Regions from separate parts of the Homo sapiens genome. Here all the other regions are linked to region 2. Evidence: fine-mapped expression QTL. A gene starts in region 2. Each other region holds a variant in brackets. All regions are shown on one strand. Distances are from middle to middle. Region 1 has its middle 52 kb from the start of IER2. Region 2 holds the start of CACNA1A (calcium voltage-gated channel subunit alpha1 A). Region 3 overlaps CACNA1A (calcium voltage-gated channel subunit alpha1 A).

The links. PIP is the estimated chance that this variant, and not a neighbour inherited with it, causes the effect.
Region 1: its variant is fine-mapped to the expression of CACNA1A in whole blood (TOPMed, PIP above 0.99).
Region 3: its variant is fine-mapped to the expression of CACNA1A in tibial nerve (GTEx, PIP above 0.99).

The regions. Positions count from the first base shown.
Region 1 is chr19:13,199,375-13,205,249 of GRCh38, forward strand. No RefSeq gene overlaps it. Among named protein-coding and RNA genes, the nearest start is that of IER2, 52 kb to the left of the region's middle. RefSeq lists a silencer at 3,697-3,897. The variant G/T (reference allele first, on the strand shown) is at 2,482.
Region 2 is chr19:13,503,844-13,509,718 of GRCh38, forward strand. It overlaps CACNA1A (calcium voltage-gated channel subunit alpha1 A), which reads right to left and starts at 2,636. Exons shown (of 47, transcript NM_001127222.2): 1 at 2,089-2,636. The coding sequence starts at 2,381. RefSeq lists an enhancer at 3,678-4,204.
Region 3 is chr19:13,299,094-13,304,848 of GRCh38, forward strand. It overlaps CACNA1A (calcium voltage-gated channel subunit alpha1 A), which reads right to left. Exons shown (of 47, transcript NM_001127222.2): 16 at 4,674-4,791; 17 at 4,453-4,520; 18 at 1,457-1,563; 19 at 1-260. Among named protein-coding and RNA genes, the nearest start is that of IER2, 150 kb to the left of the region's middle. The variant C/T (reference allele first, on the strand shown) is at 2,552.

The DNA.
Region 1 (5,875 bases), 300 kb before region 2:
CAGGCTAGTGTGCAGTGGCGCAATGTTGGCTCACTGCAACCTCCACCTTCCAGTCTCAAGTGATTCTCCTGCCTCAGCCTCCCAAGTCACTGGGATTACAGGCGCCCACCACCATGCTCAGGTATTTTTTTTTGTATTTTTAGTAGAGACGGGGTTTCACCATGTTGGTCAGGCTGGTCTCGAACTGCTGACCTTGTGATCCACCTGCCTCGGCCTCCTAGAGTGCTGGGATTACAGGCTTGAGCCACCACGCCCAGCCCTGACTTTTTTTTTTTTTGAGACAGAGGTTCGCTCTTGTTGCCCAGGCTGGAGGGCGATGATGCGATCTTGGCTCACTGCAGCCTCCGTCTCCCAGGTTCAAGCGATTCTCTTGTCTCAGCCTCCTGAGTAGCTGGGACTACAGGTGTCTGCCACAATGCCTGGTTATTTATTTATTTATTTTTGTATTTTTAGTAGAGAAGGGGTTTCTCCATGTTGGCCATGCTGGTCTTGAACTCCTGATCTCAGGTGATCCGCCTGCCTCGGCCTCCCAGAGTGCTGGGATTATGTGTGTAAACCACTGTGCCCAGCCAAATGTCTGCTATTGTAAGCCACCCAGCCTGTGATAATTTATTACAGCAGCCACAGGAAGAGACTAATACAACTCCTATTTCTTTAATTTTTTATTTTATTTTATTTTTTTGAGACGGAGTTTCCCTCTGTCTCCCAGGCTGGAGTGCAGTGGCATGATCTCGGCTCACTACGACCTCCGCTTCCCAGGTTCAAGCCAATTCTCCTGCCTCAGCCTCCTGAGTAGCTGGGATTACAGGTGCCCGCTACCACACCTGGCTGATTTTTGTATTTTTAGTAGAGATGGGGTTTCATCATGTTGTCCAGGCTGGTCTTGAACTCCTGACCTCAGGTGATGCACCCACCTCGGCCTCCCGAAGTGCTGGGATTACAGGCATGAGCCACCATGCCTGGCCCAACTCCTATTTCTTTAATTTTTTTTTGAGATGGGTTCTTGCTAGGTTGCCCAGTCTGCTCTCAAACTCCTGGGCTCAAGTGATCCTCTCGCCTTAGCCTTAGCTGGGACTACAGGTGCTTGCTACCACACCTGACTTCTTTAATTTTTTTTTTTTTTTTTTTTTTTTGAGATGATGCCTTGCTCTATCTCCCAGACTGGAGGCTCTGTCACCCAGGCTGGAGTGCAGTGGTGCAATCTTGTCTCACTGCAACCTCTGCCTCCCGTGTTCAAGCGATTCTCCTGCCTCAGTCTCCTGAGTAGGTGGGATTACAGGCACCCGCTGCCACACCTGGCTAATTTCTGTATTTTTTAGTAGAGACGGGGTTTCACCATGTTGGCTAGGCTGGTCTCGAACTCCTGACCTTGTGATCTACCTGCCTCGGCCTCCCAAAGTGCTGGGATTACAGGCATCAGCCACTGCGCCTGGCCACTTTTTTTTTTTTTTTAACTTGAAACATTTTATCTTTTTTTTTTTTTTTGAGATAGGGTTTCGCTCTGTCACCCAGGCTGGAGTACAGTGGTGTGATGACAGCTCACTGAAGCTTCAACCTCCTGGGCTCAGGTGATCCTCCCACCTCAGCCTCCCAAAATATTGGATTATAGGCATGAGCCACTGCACCTGGCCTGTTTTATCACTTCTTTTAAATTTTTTTTTTGAGAAAGAGCCTTGCTCCGTCACCCAGGCTGGAGTACAGTGGTGCGATCTCGGCTCACTGCAACCTCCGCCTCCCGGGTTCAAGCGATTGTCCTGCCTCAGCCTCCCGAGTAGCTGGGATTACAGGCATGCACCACCACACCCAGCTAACTTTGTATTTTTAGTAGAGATGGGGTTTCTCCACGTTGGTCAGGCTGGTCTGGAACTCCCGACCTCAGGTGATCTGCTCGCCTCGGCCTTCCAAAGTGCTGGGATTATAGGCGTGAGCCTCTGTGCCTGGCCCAGTTTTTTAAATTTATTTATTTTTTTGAGACAGAGCCTCTCTCCATCGCCCAGGCTGGAGTGCAGTGGTGTGATCTTGGCTCACTGCAACCTCCAGGGTTCAAGTGATTCTCCTGCCTTGGCCTCCTGAGTAGCTGGGACTACAGGTGCACGCCACCTCCCCTGTCTAATTTTTGTACAGTAGAGACGGGGTTTTGCCATGTTGGCCAGGCTGTTCTCAAACTCCTGACCTCCATGATCTGCCTGCCTCAGGCTTCCAAAGTGCTGGGATTACAGGCGTGAGCCACCGTGCCCGGCCCTGTTTTATCACTTTAATCATTGGTATCTGTAAGAGACTGGCTTTGCTGGGCTGGTGGGGCTTTCTCCAATGCACAGTGAAATAAATGCAGCTTCCTGGCTGGGTGTCCTGACCCCATCCTCTCTGCTTCCGGGTATTTCCCTAAAGTTGAGCCTTCACCCCAGCGTTGCCCTGAGTTCCTGAGGCTGGGGTTCCAGTCCTGGAAGCTGGGGTGCTCTGGCTGGGCCCCCTGCACAGTCT[G/T]GGCTCTCTCACAAGTCCTCCAGCAGAGCGATGTCACCCTTCCACGTCCCCACCCCAGTTCTCTGACGGCAGCTGAAGGGGATCAGGATATGTTACTCTTAAAAATATATCACTTAGAGACCGGGCACAGTGACTCACGCCTGTAATCCAGCACTCTGGGAGGTGGAGGTGAGTGGATCATTTGAGCTCGGGAGTTCGAGACCAGCCTGGGCAACATGGCAAAACTCCATCTCTACCAAAAATACAAAAAATTCACCAGGCATATGGTGGCATCCACCTGTGGTCCCAGCTACTTGGGAGGCTGAGGTGGGAGGATGGCTCGAGGCTGCGAGGCTGAGGTTGCAGTGAGCCGAGATTGCACCACTGCCCTCCAGCCTGGGTGACAGAGCAAGACCCTGTCTCAAACAAACAAACAAACAATCTATTATCTATCTATCTATCTATCTATCTATCTATCTATCTATCTATGTATCTATCTATGTATCTATCTATCAACTTTAGCATAAGAATTATTCTGAGCTGAATGCAATAGAAAATCAGTAGATGGCCAGGCGCGGTGGCTGACGCCTATAATCCCAGCACTTTGGGAGGCCGAGGTGGGTGGATCACCTGAGGTCAGGAGTTGGAGACCATCCTGGCCAATATGGTGAAACCTTGTCTCTACTGAAAATATAAAAAATTAGCTGGGCATGGTGGTGGGAACCTATAGTCCCAGCTACTCGGGAGGCTGAGGCACAAGAATCCCTTGAACCTGGGAGGTGGAGGTTGCAGTGAGTCGAGATCCTGACACTACAATCCAGCCTGGGCAACAGAGCGAGACTCTGTCTCAAAAAAAAAAAAAAAAAAAAAAAATCAGTAGAGGCAGAAAGAATTCTCTGCTCTCTACTTTTCTGCCTCAAAGCCAGGCATAAACTTCTCTTTAAGAAGGTGACATAAGGCTGGGCGTGGTGGCTCACTCCTGTAATCCCAGCACTTTGGGAGGCCGAGGCGGGCAGATCACAAGGTCAGGAGATCAAGACCATCCTGGCTAACACGGTGAAACCCTGTCTCTACTAAAAATACAAAAAAATTAGCTGGGCATGGTGGCGGGCACCTATAGTTCCAGCTACTCAGGAGGCTGAGGCAGGAGAATGGCGTGATCCCAGGAGGCAGAGCTTGCAGTGAGCCAAGATTGCACCACTGCACTCCAGCCTGGGCAACAGAGTGCGACTCCGTTTCAAAAAAAAAGGTGACATAAATTTTCCTTTGTGGAGGTATCCCCCCGTCTCCTTACCAGGGAGAGCAGAATGACTCCTATCACTGCAGATAGTCAGTCCCAAGATGAGTCTACATAAACAAACCTTCCTAAAATAACTCTCTGTCTCCCTCTCTCTCTTTTTTTTTTGGAACAGGGTTTTGCTCTGTCACCCAGGCTGGAGTGCAGTGGTGTGATCATAGGTCACTGATGCCTTGACCTCCTGGGTTCAAGTGATCCTCCTACCTCAGCCTCCCAAGTAGCTGAGACCACAGGCATGCACCGCCATGCCGGGCTAACTTTTGTATTATTTATTTATTTATTTTTTGAGACGGAGTTTCGCTTTTGTTGCCCAGGCTGGAGCGCAATGGCATGATCTCGGCTCACTGCAACCTCCACCTCCCAGGTTCAAGTGATTCTCCTGCCTCAGCCTCCCGAGTAGCTGGGATTATAGGCATGCGCCACTACGCCCGGCTAATTTTGCATTTTTAGTAGAGATGGGGTTTTTCCATGTTGGCCAGGCTGTTCTCGAACTCCCGACCTCAGGTGATCCGCCCACCTCGGCCTCCCAAAGTGCTGGGATTACAGGCGTGAGCCACCACGCCTGGCCAATTTTTGTATTTTTTGTAGGAATGGGGTTTCACCATGTTGCCCAGGCTGGTCTCGAACTCCTGGGCTCAAGTGATCCTCCTGCCTCAGCCTCTCGAGTAGCTGGGACCACAGGCATGTACCACTACACTCTGCTTTTTTTTATTTTTAGTAGAGACAAGGTCTTGCCATGTTGCCCAGGCTGGTCTCGAACTCCTGAGCTCAAGCAGTCCACCCACCTTGGCCTCCCAAAGTGCTGGGGTTACAGGCGTGAGACACCGCGCCCGGCCAATGCCTGGGCTTTTGCACCTCAGGGCATTTCTTTTTCTTTTTTTTCTTGAGTCTCGCTCTGTTGCCCAGGCTGGAGTGCAGTGGCATGATCTCGGCTCACTGCAGGCTCTGCCTCCCGGGTTCACGCCATTCTCCTGCCTCAGCCTCCTGAGTAGCTGGGACTACAGGCGCCTGCCACTATGCCCGGCTGATTTTTTGTATTTTTAGCAGAGACGGGGTTTCACCGTGTTAGCCAGGATGGTCTTGATCTCCTGACCTCATGATCTGCCCGCCTCGGCCTCCCAAAGTGCTGGGATTACAGGCTTGAGCCACCGCGCCCGGTCACCTCAGGGCATTTCTATGACAATCATGCCCTTCCAACCTTCCAGGTGATGAGGCTCAAGCAATGGCCTGAGAGTATGTGAGACTGGGGACTAGGCCAAGCTCCGCCCCTCTTCCTCATCCCCTGATCTTCCCACCCTGTGTCTCCTGGGCAACTAACACTCTAGCCTGATGATGTGCACTGTGGAGGCCTTGGGTCTACCTCTTGGCACTCGGGCATAGACTTGGCCTTTGAGTTCAGGGCTCATGGGGGGCTTCGGTAGTGAACTTCATTCCTGGGAGGACAGATGGCTGCAGCCTCATTGACAGCAGAGGGAATTGCACAAACCCTGGCTTACTCCAGTGGCTCCTGGACACACTCAACCCCAGCACCATGGGAGGGGGACCAGAGGCCAGCTCTGCAATGGATGGGCAGCTTGTTTAGAAGCCTGTGGTGGTTGCCAGATTGCCTGGTTAGAAAGTTAAACCCCTCCCTCCCTCCCTTCCATTCCATTTTTTTTTTTTTTTTTTTTTGAGACGTAGTCTCACTCTGTCGCCCAGGCTGCAGTGCAGTGACGCAATCTCAGCTCACTGCAACCTCTGCCTCCCAGGTTCAAGCGATTTTCCTGCCTCAGCCTGCCAAGTATCTGGGAATATAGGCATGCACCACCACACCTGGCTAATTTTTTTATTTTTAGTAGAGACAGGGTTTCACTATGTTGGCCAGGCTGGTCTCAAACTCCTGACTTGGTGATCTGCTCACCTTGGCCTCCCAAAGTGCTGGGATTACAGGCGTGAGCCTCTGTACCCAGCCTTAAAAAAAACAAACTTTTTTTTTTAGAGACAGCGTCTTGCTATGTTGCCCAGGCTGGTCTTGAACTACTGGCCTCAAGTGATTCTCCCAAAGTGTTGAGATTACAAGAGTCAGACACCGCACTCGACCTCAAAACTTTGACTTCTCGTTGGACTGATCTTTTCCTA
Region 2 (5,875 bases):
GAGCTGGCCAGAGAATAGATGAAGTGGCAAGCAACACTCGCAATTCACCTGCCTCCCTCTCCCACGATTCCCCCTTCCGAGGGGCCACTGCAATCCCCCTCTCCCCCAACAGCCCTCCAATCTGCAGGATTCAGGCTGGACAGAGGTAAGCTAAGGACACAGCAGAAGGGCTCCCCACCTCCTTCCTTTCCTCTTAGAAGTCTCCAAATCCAGGCTCCAGAAGGCGATCTAAAGCCATTTTCAATGAGGAAACCTGTCAGCCGAGCAAAGCCCTCTCACTCCTGGAGCTAACTGGGTGTGCACCCATGAATACCCTGTCCTCCTGCAAGGCACTCCCACTCCTCACTCTGTTGATAGGCAGAGTAATCAAGCCACCCCTGAGCACTTCAATGGGCCTGGGATGGTGAGGAATTGCTAACCTTAAGAACCAGCCTCTTTAAGAGTCTGAAACTTAGGAAGCAAAGACCTGGCACCTGCTTTGGGCACCAACGGAGATGGCATCGTAGTTAGAGGTATGCTCCCCTCAAAAGCACCTCTGCTGAACTTCTTAATTTTCCCCACCCTCAAAGTAGACCACTCACACACTCCAAAACCTCAGTGCCCTCTGTTGCAATCCCAGCACCCAGGATCCAAGCGCCAGGCTCGATTTTGAACCCCCCTGAAGTGAGTCCCTCTACCACCCGCCATGCTCCTCAAACAGCAACCCCCGGAGACCACACAGGGCCCAGCCCCGTTTAGTCTATAACTGCAAAACCACATACAAAAGGGATAGGGGACTCATCGCTGAGCCCCAGGGACCCATCCAGCCCGTTCATTTTTACACAGAGGGCAGCTGGTTGGAACTGTGCGGAGAAGCGGCACATCTGGGCATGGCACAGTGGCCAGCCAGCCTGGGCAGCAGGGTGTGTCCCCCCTCCTGGAATCTGGGTCATGCTTAGATAACTGCTAGAAAGCCCGACTAATTACCCACCCTTGCCTGCCTACATCTCGATAGATGTTAAGCCCTCCTCAAGGTTTATTTCAAGCAGGCAGGGATTTAAAGAAACACAGAAGATCTGCATTTTGATAGCATCTCCACAGAAGAAAATGTGGGCTTCACCTTTTTCCTCTGGATCTTTGATTAAAAAAAAAAAAATTTAAAAGGCATTTACCTACCTAAGATGTCCACATGGGTGCTGATTCTCCTGGTGTTCCCTCTCGGCTACTCGGGGTAGGAAAAGCTGGACATGGTGCTCTAAAATGGACCCACCACCTCATTTGCTGTTGCCCTGTCTTTCTTACTGAAAGTGTCCAGATCAGGTCTTCCCAGGCCAGGGGCCCAGATAAAGCAAGTGGGATCTCTTTCTCGACACCCCCAAAGATGATGAGGTTCCCCAATCAGCGGTTAAAGGCAATGGGACCTGCACACATGAGGGAAACATAAGCGCCCCCCAGCCCATCACTATCCTCTCCAGATAGGAACAGCGGCCCACCCTGGGGTACTCACTTCGGCCAGTGCTGGCTTCTCAGTGTGAAGGCCACATGGACTCCCTCTTGCTCTTAGCCCTGGGAGCCCCCAAGCGCCCTGCCCTAAAAGTGCGGCGGCCCCCCACCTTGGGGAAAGCAGTAGTGGAGAGGCTGTCCAGCTTCCCCTGCGTGGACTCCAGTGAGCGACGGCCAAGAAAACCCAACCAAGGCCCCCATAGTTCCCCTGCCCTGGCCAGAAGCGCCCAGGCCCGAGCCCGCTCCAAGCTCACTCCGTAGAACTCCAAACCCTCCGGACTTGGCTCGAAAGCCCCCACCAAGGCTCCTGCACGACCCCAGGCCCCAGATCTCATTCTAGAGTCGGTCCTTGGGAAGGATCCACTCTCCGCTGCCCACCCCCCAGCCCCCCACAAACCCATTCCCAAGCCTCCAGGGTAGCTCAACCCAGCTCGGGGTGGAGAGATTCTTTCACACTCCTCCCGGTGCCCCCTCTCCCAGCCCCTGGAAGACCCCCCTCCTCCCCACCTCCCATCAACCCCCGGGTCTCTCTCCCAGCCTGGAAGAGGGGAGGCGGAGGGAGGAGGGGGAGGCGCAGCTGCTGCTGGGGTTCGGGCAAAAGGATATGGCCATTCGGTGATCTTTTTGGCGTATTTTCTCACCACGTTGTCTTCGCTGAAGAGGAAGAGAGACCGGTTAACCGTGAGGCAGTTCTGTCGGACGGGGATGGGGTTGTAGAGTGCCATGGTCCGCGCTCTCTGCGCCATTGACTGCTTGTACATCCTTTGCGCCCCGGGCTGCCCGCCCTGCCGGCTGCCCCCGGCTCCTCGCCCGCCTCCGCTGCCCACGACCACCCCGGCGGCTGCCCCGGAGCCTCCTCCCCCGTAGCGGGCCGGCATCTCGTCTCCGAAGCGGGCCATTCTGCAAAGAGCAAAGGGCTCCGGGTTACGCTGCGGCGAACGATGCGGAAGACGCCGCCGCCGCCGCCGCCGCCGCTGATGCTGAGGCTGCCGGGGCTGGGAGCGCGGCGGCTGGAGCTACGACTGCGGAGACGCTCCACGGCCCAGCCCATCGGGCGGCGGCGGCTCGGCGCCTCGGGTCGGGGGCTCAGAAGGCGGCTGCCCGGGCCGAGCCGGGGATAGCAGCTCGGGACATCTTCCTGGCTGACCCCGGAGAAGGAGGGGCGGGAGGAGGGTGCGGGGGCGGGGCGCGGGGGCCCGGGGAGGAGGGGGGAGGGGAGAGAGAAGCGAGGCAAAAAATAACCGAGGAAGGAATCCAGGCAATCCCCAGTCCACCCACTCCGGAAAAAAAAAAAAAGAGACAGTTAAAAAAAAAAAATCCACCCAACGCACACCCCCTTTAAGACGCGAACGGTTTGCAAAGGACGCCCCCCCCGGGACGCAGTGGAAGCTTCAAATTCCTCCGAGGTCCGGGTCAGGCTGGCATCTTGCAAAAGGAGTGCGCTCGGCCCATTAAAAAAAAATAAAAAATAAAAAATAAAAAAATATATATATATTTAAAAATAAAGAAAGACGAAACCCAGGTCTGGGTGGGGAGGGCAAAAAAAAAAAAAAAAAAAATTAAGTGCCCTTCTGTTTTGCTGGAGTTCCTAGACCTTAAAAATGCTGAAAGATCTGTAGCTCCAAAAATAAAATAAAATAAAAACAAAGAAGATGAAAGGGAAGGGAAAGAGGAGGGAAGGGGAGTAAGACGCTCCAGAGGGTTCCTAAGGAGTCTTCACACCGCAGGGTCCAGGTTTAAAAAAAAAAAAAAAAATTTTTTTTCTTCCTGAATCACCAACGGCTGCCTCTTCTGCTCCCGGAGGAAGTGTGAGTGTGTATGTGCGCACAGCGTTTCGCTCAATGGTGCCTCATCTTGGGGTTAAATTGCAGCAGTGAAATCCTGAAAATTCCCAACAGGGGGAAAAGAGAGAGAGAGAGAGGTATGCGCCCTCCGCTTAGCCACTCAATAGCTGCCCCTGGATGCGGCAATGCCTCTCCACCCTCCAAATCCCTCCACCTCCTCCTTCTCTAGGTTTTGCTAAAATAAGACTGGTGTGGAGGGTTGCGGGTAGAAGAAGGTAAAGAGGAAAAAAAAATGGGCGCAAAGGTCTGAACCACTGGCCAGCAAACGGAAAAGGGGAGCAATTGATGAGTTTAACAGTAGAAGGACCCACCCAGAGTGTCGACACATGAGGGCCCGCGACCAATCGTGGAGGCTCGTGGAGGCGCGGGGGTACCGGGCTCAGCGGAGTTTGTGGGGGAGAGAGGGGAGCGTCGCATGGTTGGGAGGCAGGGAGGGGGGAATTGGGGTGCTTCCTCCTCCCCTGGGAGGAAAGCCTGTTTTCCACCCCGTTCCATTTCGGTTGCAGACAGCCGGACGCTCCCCAGCATCTTGCAAGGAGAAGGCAGGATGGAGGCAGGAAAAAAACTTAAAAGACAGAAAAGAGAAGGGGATTTGTGTCTAGAGGTGCGATTCGTCAGTCTCTAAACAAATTTGCTCTGTTTAGCAAAAGACCATTTTTGAAAGTGGAGAGAGTGGTTTGGGGTTACTTCTGTGAACGTTTCAAATCACAAGGACTCCTGCAAGTTGGAATTAAAGGTTTATTCTACCTTGGAGACCCCAGAGGTGACAAGTCTGAACTCCCAGGAGGAAATAATTAACCAGGTCCTAGTTGGCTGGATAGGGGTTCTGGGTGGTATAGTTTGCTTGATACTCACGTCTCTCCAGAACCACTTTGATTACTTCCCATTCTGCTTTTTGTGTGGTGAAATTCAATAAGCACAAAGAAAAATGCATAAAACATAAAGGTACGGAGTTAAGAAATTGGTCTGAAATGAACACTCATGAAATCAAGTCTAGGGCTAGAAATGGAACATCACCACCTCTGCAGAACCCCCTTTGCCAACACGCTTACACAGCCCCTTATTCCAGCAATAATCGCTACCTGACTTTATGGTATTCATATCTTGCTTTTTTAAAAAAAGTTTGACTACCTTATTATGCGTTCCTAACCAATACAATTTTACTTTGCTTCTTTTGGGCTTTTATATAAATGGAATAATCATATAGTATATATTCTACAGTTTCTTGTTTCTTCGGTTCAACATTATGTCTTTAAGATTCATCTGGCAGGGCACGGTGTCTGCGCCTGTAATCCCAGCACTTTGGGAGGCAGAGCATGAGGATTGCTTGAGGCCAGGGGTTTGAGACAAGCCTGGGCAATATAGCAAGACCCTGTCTCTCCAAAAACCTTTTTTAAAATAAAAATTAACCAGGCATGGTGATGTGAACCTAGTCCCAGCTACTTAGGAGGCTGAGATGGGAAGATCCCTTGAGTCCAGGATGTTGCAGTGAGCCAAGATCAAACCACTGCCCTCCAGCCTGGGCAACAAAGTGAGACTCTGTCAAACAAAACAAAACAAAACAAAAACAAACAAACAAAAAAAACAAGATTCATACATCCTAATCTGTTTCGAATTTTAGAAAAATTCACCTGTTTGTTGTCACACATGGCTGTGATTCATTCACTTTCACTGCTGTATAGTATTTCATCAAGAGAATATGCCACAATTTGTTTATCCATCATCTTGTTGATGGGTATCTGTTTTTTTTCCAGTTGGGGCTATTAAACATTACTGCCTCAGGTACCTTTGGTGCAGATAAGAATGCATGTCTCTAGGAATAGCCTTAGGTGTGGAATGTCTGGGTCCACAAGGTATTCATATCTTCAAGCTTATAAGATGTCATCAAACTGTCTTGCAAATTCAATGTACCAAGAAACCATTGAATTTTCATGGAGCTTGTATACGCAGAAAGGCCAAATGGAGAGGAATGGGAAAAGGATGAAAAAGGCAAATATTCTTTCAAGCCTTAGCTAGTTAAATCCTAGTTAATTCCCTTCCCCCCTCGCCACCCCACACACACATATCAATATTCGAGTTCTTTTGGAACACTCTGGAAAGATGATATGTCTTTATATAAAGTCCCCGTTCTGTGCCAATGCACCAACTATTATACATTGCCCCATAGCACTTTCAAGATTTTCTAACTTGTCACGATATGGATGAAATGATTAAACCAAGAGTGATTGGAATTGCAAGGAGATAGAATTGTGTGGGATTCAGGGAGAAGGAGGGGCTTTTAAGGCGCTCACCAAATATCAGTGATTTTTGTACTTGACATTGTTTCAGATATAAAAGGTGAACAGCAACTAATATGAAACAAGAAGCGAGCCCATGTGTTCAGATGGGAAGAACCAGTCATATGAGAGGAGCTGAGTTGAACTTATCATTTGTTCTGATGGACCTCTCTGAGAAGATTATTCAGTTTTAGAGCAGGAGCATTACCTGCATAGATCTGTGAAGACCCCAGAGTTTTTCAGGAAAGAGTGACATCTCACTGATGGAGCTCC
Region 3 (5,755 bases), 200 kb before region 2:
GGTCCACGGTGGGCTCGGCCGCCCGGCTCTTGTTGGTGTTGTTGTTGCGGTTCTCCTGCGGGTCCACCACCAGCGGCCGGTCCAAGTGCGTCTTCATGTCTGGCCGCAGGTGCCGCGTGTAGGCAGCCTTCCAGCGCTCGTCCGGGTCCATTTCGTTATACAGGGCCTCCCGGCTGGCCAGCAAGTTCTGCTTTCGCATCTCACTGGTCCGCTGCTCCCACACGGACTTGGCTGGCTTTTGATTCTTCTGTTGCTCTTTCCTGCAGTGGCATGGTCACAGGACTTAGAGCATTGCTAGGCACTGTAGCTTGGATGGATGACCCAGGCGAACCAACCCACATCTCAGCCTCCCACTCCTGCTCTCCACCCTCTACTCCCCACTGAATGCTAGGAGTCTGTGAGCATCTGAGTCAGGTCCCAGCCTCCTCTGCTCAAGAACCCTCCATGGCTCCCACCTGGCTAGGGGCAAAAGCCCAAGTCCTCCCCCCTGACCCAGAAGGCCCTGTGTAATCTGCTTGTCACCTCCTTGCCTTCACCTCCTCACACTTACTATTCGATTCTAGTCACACAGGCCTCCTTCACATCAGGCATGTTCCTGCCTCAGGGCCATTGCCTATGCTGTTCCCTCTGCCTGGGATGCCCTTCCCCAGGCCCCCCAGTGGCTCCTCCCTCACCTCCTTCAGGCCATGTAACCTTCTAGGTGAGCAGTCCCCAACCTTTTTGGCACCAGGGGCCAGTTTTGTGGAAGACAGTTTTTCCACAGACCTAGGTGTGGGGGGTGGTTTTGGGATGAAACTGTTTCACCTGAGATCATCAGGCATTCGATTCTTAAAAGGAGCACGCAACCTAGATCCCTCAGATGCACCGTTCACAATAGTGTTTGTGTTCCTATGAGAATCTAATGCTGCCTGCTGATCTGACGGCAGGTGGAGCTCAGGCGGTAATGCTTGCTTGCTCACTGTTCACCTCCTGCTGTGCAGCCCCGTTCCTAATAGGCCTCGGCCTGGTACCAGTCCACAGCCCCGGGACTGGGGACCCCTATTCTAGGTGATGCCTTCCCTGACAACTTCGTTTAAAATCACAACTCTCTTCACTCCCAGCATTTGCTATTTCCCTCCCCTACTTTCTCTGTAGTTCCATCGCCTTCTAACACAATATATAATTTACTTATTTATCTAATTTATTGACTCCTTCCCTTGCTAGAATGGCTACACACAGGTGGGATTTTTTTTTTCCTCCTTGTTAATGCTGTATCCCCAGAAGTTAGAACAGTGCTGGGTACATAACAGCTGCTAACCAAATATTTATTGAGTGAAAGTGGGTGGAAGGACAAGAAGTGTCTCTTCCTAAAGCTCAGTTCTGTCAAGGACCACCCCCACTGCTTCCCAAATCTGTGCCTGGGATAGTGTGGACGTTCAGGAGCCAGGGTAGCATCCCAGGGATTAGGGGCACTTACACAGCTATAGACATGTTGGCCGCGGACAGAGGACTCACTTCTGCCACCTCCTTGGCTTTCTGTAGGGCAAGTTTCTGGTTCGCTGCTTCTTCTTCCTCTTGCTCGTCCTAAAAGGCACGTGGAATCTTTGTTCACAAAACATGAACTAGGCCTTGGGGACTCACTTCTGACCCTGTTGCTGACCAGGGGCAACATTTGAAATATTTCGACCAATCAGAACCAAGGCTCCCCAATTGGAATGGGTACCTGCTATTGGTTAAGTGTATTGCTATCCCCTCTGTGTATAAGTTTGACATCTAACTCATTATGAAGCCTATTTTAACACACAGCCAGATAACAAAAAATAAAAATGTCCCTTCTCTTCCTACAATGAAGACTTTCCTGCAGCCTATTTTTTTTTCTTTTGTTTGTTTTCAGAGACAGAGTCTCCCTTGGTTGCCCAGCCTGGAGTGCAGTGGCACAATCATAGCTCACTGTAACCTTGAACTCCTGGGCTCAAGCAATCCTCCCACCTCAGCCTCCCAAGCAACTGGGACTACAGGTGCATGCCACTATGCCTGTATACATTTAATTTTTTTTTTTTTTTTGTAGAGACAGGGTCTCACTATGTTGCCCAGGCTGGTCTTGAACTTCTGGCCTCAAATGATCCTCCCATTTCGGCCTCCCAAAGTGCTGGGATTCCAGGCATGTGCCACCATGCCTGGCCCCTGCATCCTGTCTTAATGAGCTGGAAAGCAGTGCAAAGATTTTCCTCTCACTAGGCTTTCTGAGCCATGTGAACTCTCTGAACCAACTTTCAAAAAACACCAACTACCCTCACACACAGAAGAGCCTGGCATCCGATGGCCCCTGCCATGCACTGTCAACAGCCCCCAGAAGGAGAATGAGGAGAGGAATTTATATTCCCAGCCCCCATGACAGGAAGGCGGTGGGGAGAGGAGAGCAGGGCACTTGGGCTACAGCCAACTGCCCAGGGTGCTGCTGCTCACTGGTGGTTAGGTTCAGAGAGGAGGAGAATGGGGGAAGAGGTTTTAAAAATACATACAGAAAAAGACGTTTTTGGACTTTAAATCCTTCTTCAGCCTTCATGCAGGG[C/T]CTCATTCGTAAAACAGAAAAGCCAACAAAGAAAAAGCAAAGAAAAGGCAACGAGAAAGAAATGGCCAGAAATGAACCCGCCCATAAGAAAAGTCATGCCATTGCAGGCAGCTCTCCCGCTGTGCTCCGAATCACTGGAACGGGGAGCAACCTTACCACCTTGGAAATGGTCAGATCAGGACACTGTCAGAGACAACATGGAGATGGGATCTGGCTGGCCACCCTGCTCTCATAGGGCCACCCCCACCCCTCCTGGCACCATTCCCAGCATTTTTCAGAGCTAGGTCTCTGGACCATCTGCCTCAGAAACACCTAAAATGCAGATCCTCAGGCTCCCCAAATAATCTATAGAACCAGTGCTGGGCCCTGGAATCTGCATTTCCCACAGGTTCCCAAGTGAGCATAAAACATGCCCAAATTCAAGCAACTGGTACACAGCAGTTAAGAGCACAAGCTGCAGACCCAGACGGCCTGGGTTCAAATCCCAGCTCCACAACTTACTGCTGTGTGGCCTTGGGCAAGTCTCTCAACCTCTCTGTGCGACACACATCTCATCTAAAATTCCAACTCTCCCTGACTTTCCCTACTGAATTTTTCTCTGTTGTGTTTATCACCAACTGACAAGCTACGTATGTTTACAAATTTATCTTGTTTCTTGTCTGTCTCCCCTCTTGAATCCCTGCTCCACGGAGGCAGGGATTTTTGCCTTTTTTTGTTCACTGCTTAATCCCTAAGTCCTAGACCAGGGCCTTGGTCACACAGTAGGTGCTCATTAAGTGCTTACTGAATGATGAAATCTGTAAAATGGGGCTCAGAGAACTTGGCTCCTAAGGTTTCCATGAGGACTGAATAGGATTAAAAACACGTATTAAATGACCAAGAAATGCTTGTAGGATCAATGAAAGAAAGAATGTGGATCTGGAGAGGAATGTCCACACCTCCCAGGAGATAAACGAACTGGCCTTTCTCCCTCCCCTTCTGCTACCCTCCTGCACCAGCCCCTAAGGATGGACTCTTGGAACTTGGATGAGCTCATGGCTGGATCAGCCCTCGGCTCAGCCATGCCAGCCAGCTCCACAGTGGCCAGGCTTGTGGCCGTGTGCTTGGGATGGCAGAGACTTCCGCTTCCCTCCACTGGGAGCTGGGGCCGGGAAACTCTCTCTCCCTCCTGCCAGGGCCGGCAGATGGAGCGTTGGCAACGTCTGCTTGGTTTGGTTCAATTTCACAAACATGTCCTGAATACCTCGAGGCACTGGAGGTGGGGCTGCAATGCTGAGGGAGACCCCAGGGCTGAGAGGAAGACCCTGTACCTGTTACATGTAATCTTAACTTAATAGGGTCCTTGGGGAGAGGCTTAGGCTGGACGGAGGCTAGCTCTTAACATGCTGCGTTTGGCTAAGGGGAGGCTCCAGCGGGAAGCCAGAGGAAGAGAGAAGGTGGGGACATTTATTGGCCACTCCATCTGTGCCTTGCCATGGTTCTGGGTTCTCTAAGGTCCCAGGGCTGGTGGCAGCCCTTTTTCCTTGGCCCCAGCTCTGACTGGGTCCCCATAACAGCACTCCCTCTCCCATCCACTAGCCTGGGGGCTACACCATTCCTTGGAAACCCTGCTTACTCCCTGTAAACGGCCTTTTGGTTGAGTTTGCCATCCGTTTCCTGCAGCGACCTCACTGCCTTCCCCCTTCCCACCCTCTTGGCTGTAGAATTTGCTTGATGAGGGACAGTCTGTTTCTGGGAGTGGGGGGAGAGGCGCCTTCTCTTTGCATGGTGCATCCCCGGCAAAAGTTCTAACCCTGTTCCCATGCCCCCACCCCCACCCCCACCCCCACCCCCACCCCCGTCCTGATCTGCCATGGGCAGGTGGTAACTTTGCCAGAGAAACATTCTCCCACCGCCTCCACCTTGGTGAGCTCCTGGGCGTTGGCCAGATTGTCCACAGCGATGGCCAAGAACACATTCAGGAGGGTGTCTGCAAATGTCTGAGTCAGGAAAAGCAACCACTGGTGGGACACCACTTGGGCCCTGGGTATCTGGGTCTCTCAGTACCCTCCCTTGAGCCCCTGCAACCTCTCCTCTGCCAGAGGTCCAGGCCTGTCCCCTTCTCTCTCTCCATGAAGGATACAGTTCCCAAAGAGCGTCAGTACAATGAAATAGATGGAGAACACCATGCCGCCCTGCACGCCCCCCTGAGACTTGATCCCGTCGTACATGACCTCGTTCCAGTCTTCGCCCGTCAGGATCTGAAAGGGGAGGAAGAAACACACAGCCAACCCCCCTCTCAGCCACGGGCCCCTTGGAGATGCAGCTGTGGAGCCGGAATCCGCCCACCCCATCCCCGAGCCCAGGAGGTCTTTAACAATCCTGCCCGGTTTGCAGAGCCAGACTCCGTGTTGGCTTCTCCTTGGCTTTTCTCTTTGTTTGCGAGTAGAAAGGGCCGTTCCTGCGTCGTGGGGCTCTTAGCCTGGCTTCTAGGAAAATGGGACCCTGGAGGAGTCACAGACCCTCCTGTAACTCTGTCTTACTTGATGTGATTAAGGGGATTTGTTATGGACTAAATTGTGCCCGCCTCCAAATTCATGAGTTGAAGCCCTAACCTATGATGGGATGGTATTTGGAGATGGGGCCTTTAAGAGGTAACTAGGGTTAGATGAGGTCATGGGGGACTTCATGATGGTATTAGTGCCCTTATAAGAACAGGAAGAGACCGCATGCCATGGCTCATGCCTGTAATCCCAGCACTTTGGGAGGCCAAGGTGGGAGGATCACTTGAGCCCAGGAGTTCAAGATTAGCCTGGGCAATATAGCAAGACCCCATCTTTACAAAAAATTTAAAAAAATTAGCTGGTGCCCATCTGTAGTCCCAGCTACTCAAGGGGCTGAGGTGGGAGGATCGTTTGAACCTAGGAGTTTGAGGCTGCAGTGAGCTATGATTGTGCCACTGCACTCCAGGCTGGGTGACAAAAAAATGTGATTTGCCTAAAAAAAAAATAGATTTTTTTTTGAGATTTTTGTCTCAAAAAAAAAAAAAAAAAAAGAACAGGAAGAAACATCACAACTCTCTCTCTCTCTCTTTGACATATGAGGACACAGCAAGAAGGTGGCTATCTGCAAGCTAGGAAGAGGGCCCTCACCAGGAACTAACTAACCCTGCTAACACTTTGATCTTGGACTTCCCGGCCTCCAGAACTATGAGAGAATAAATGT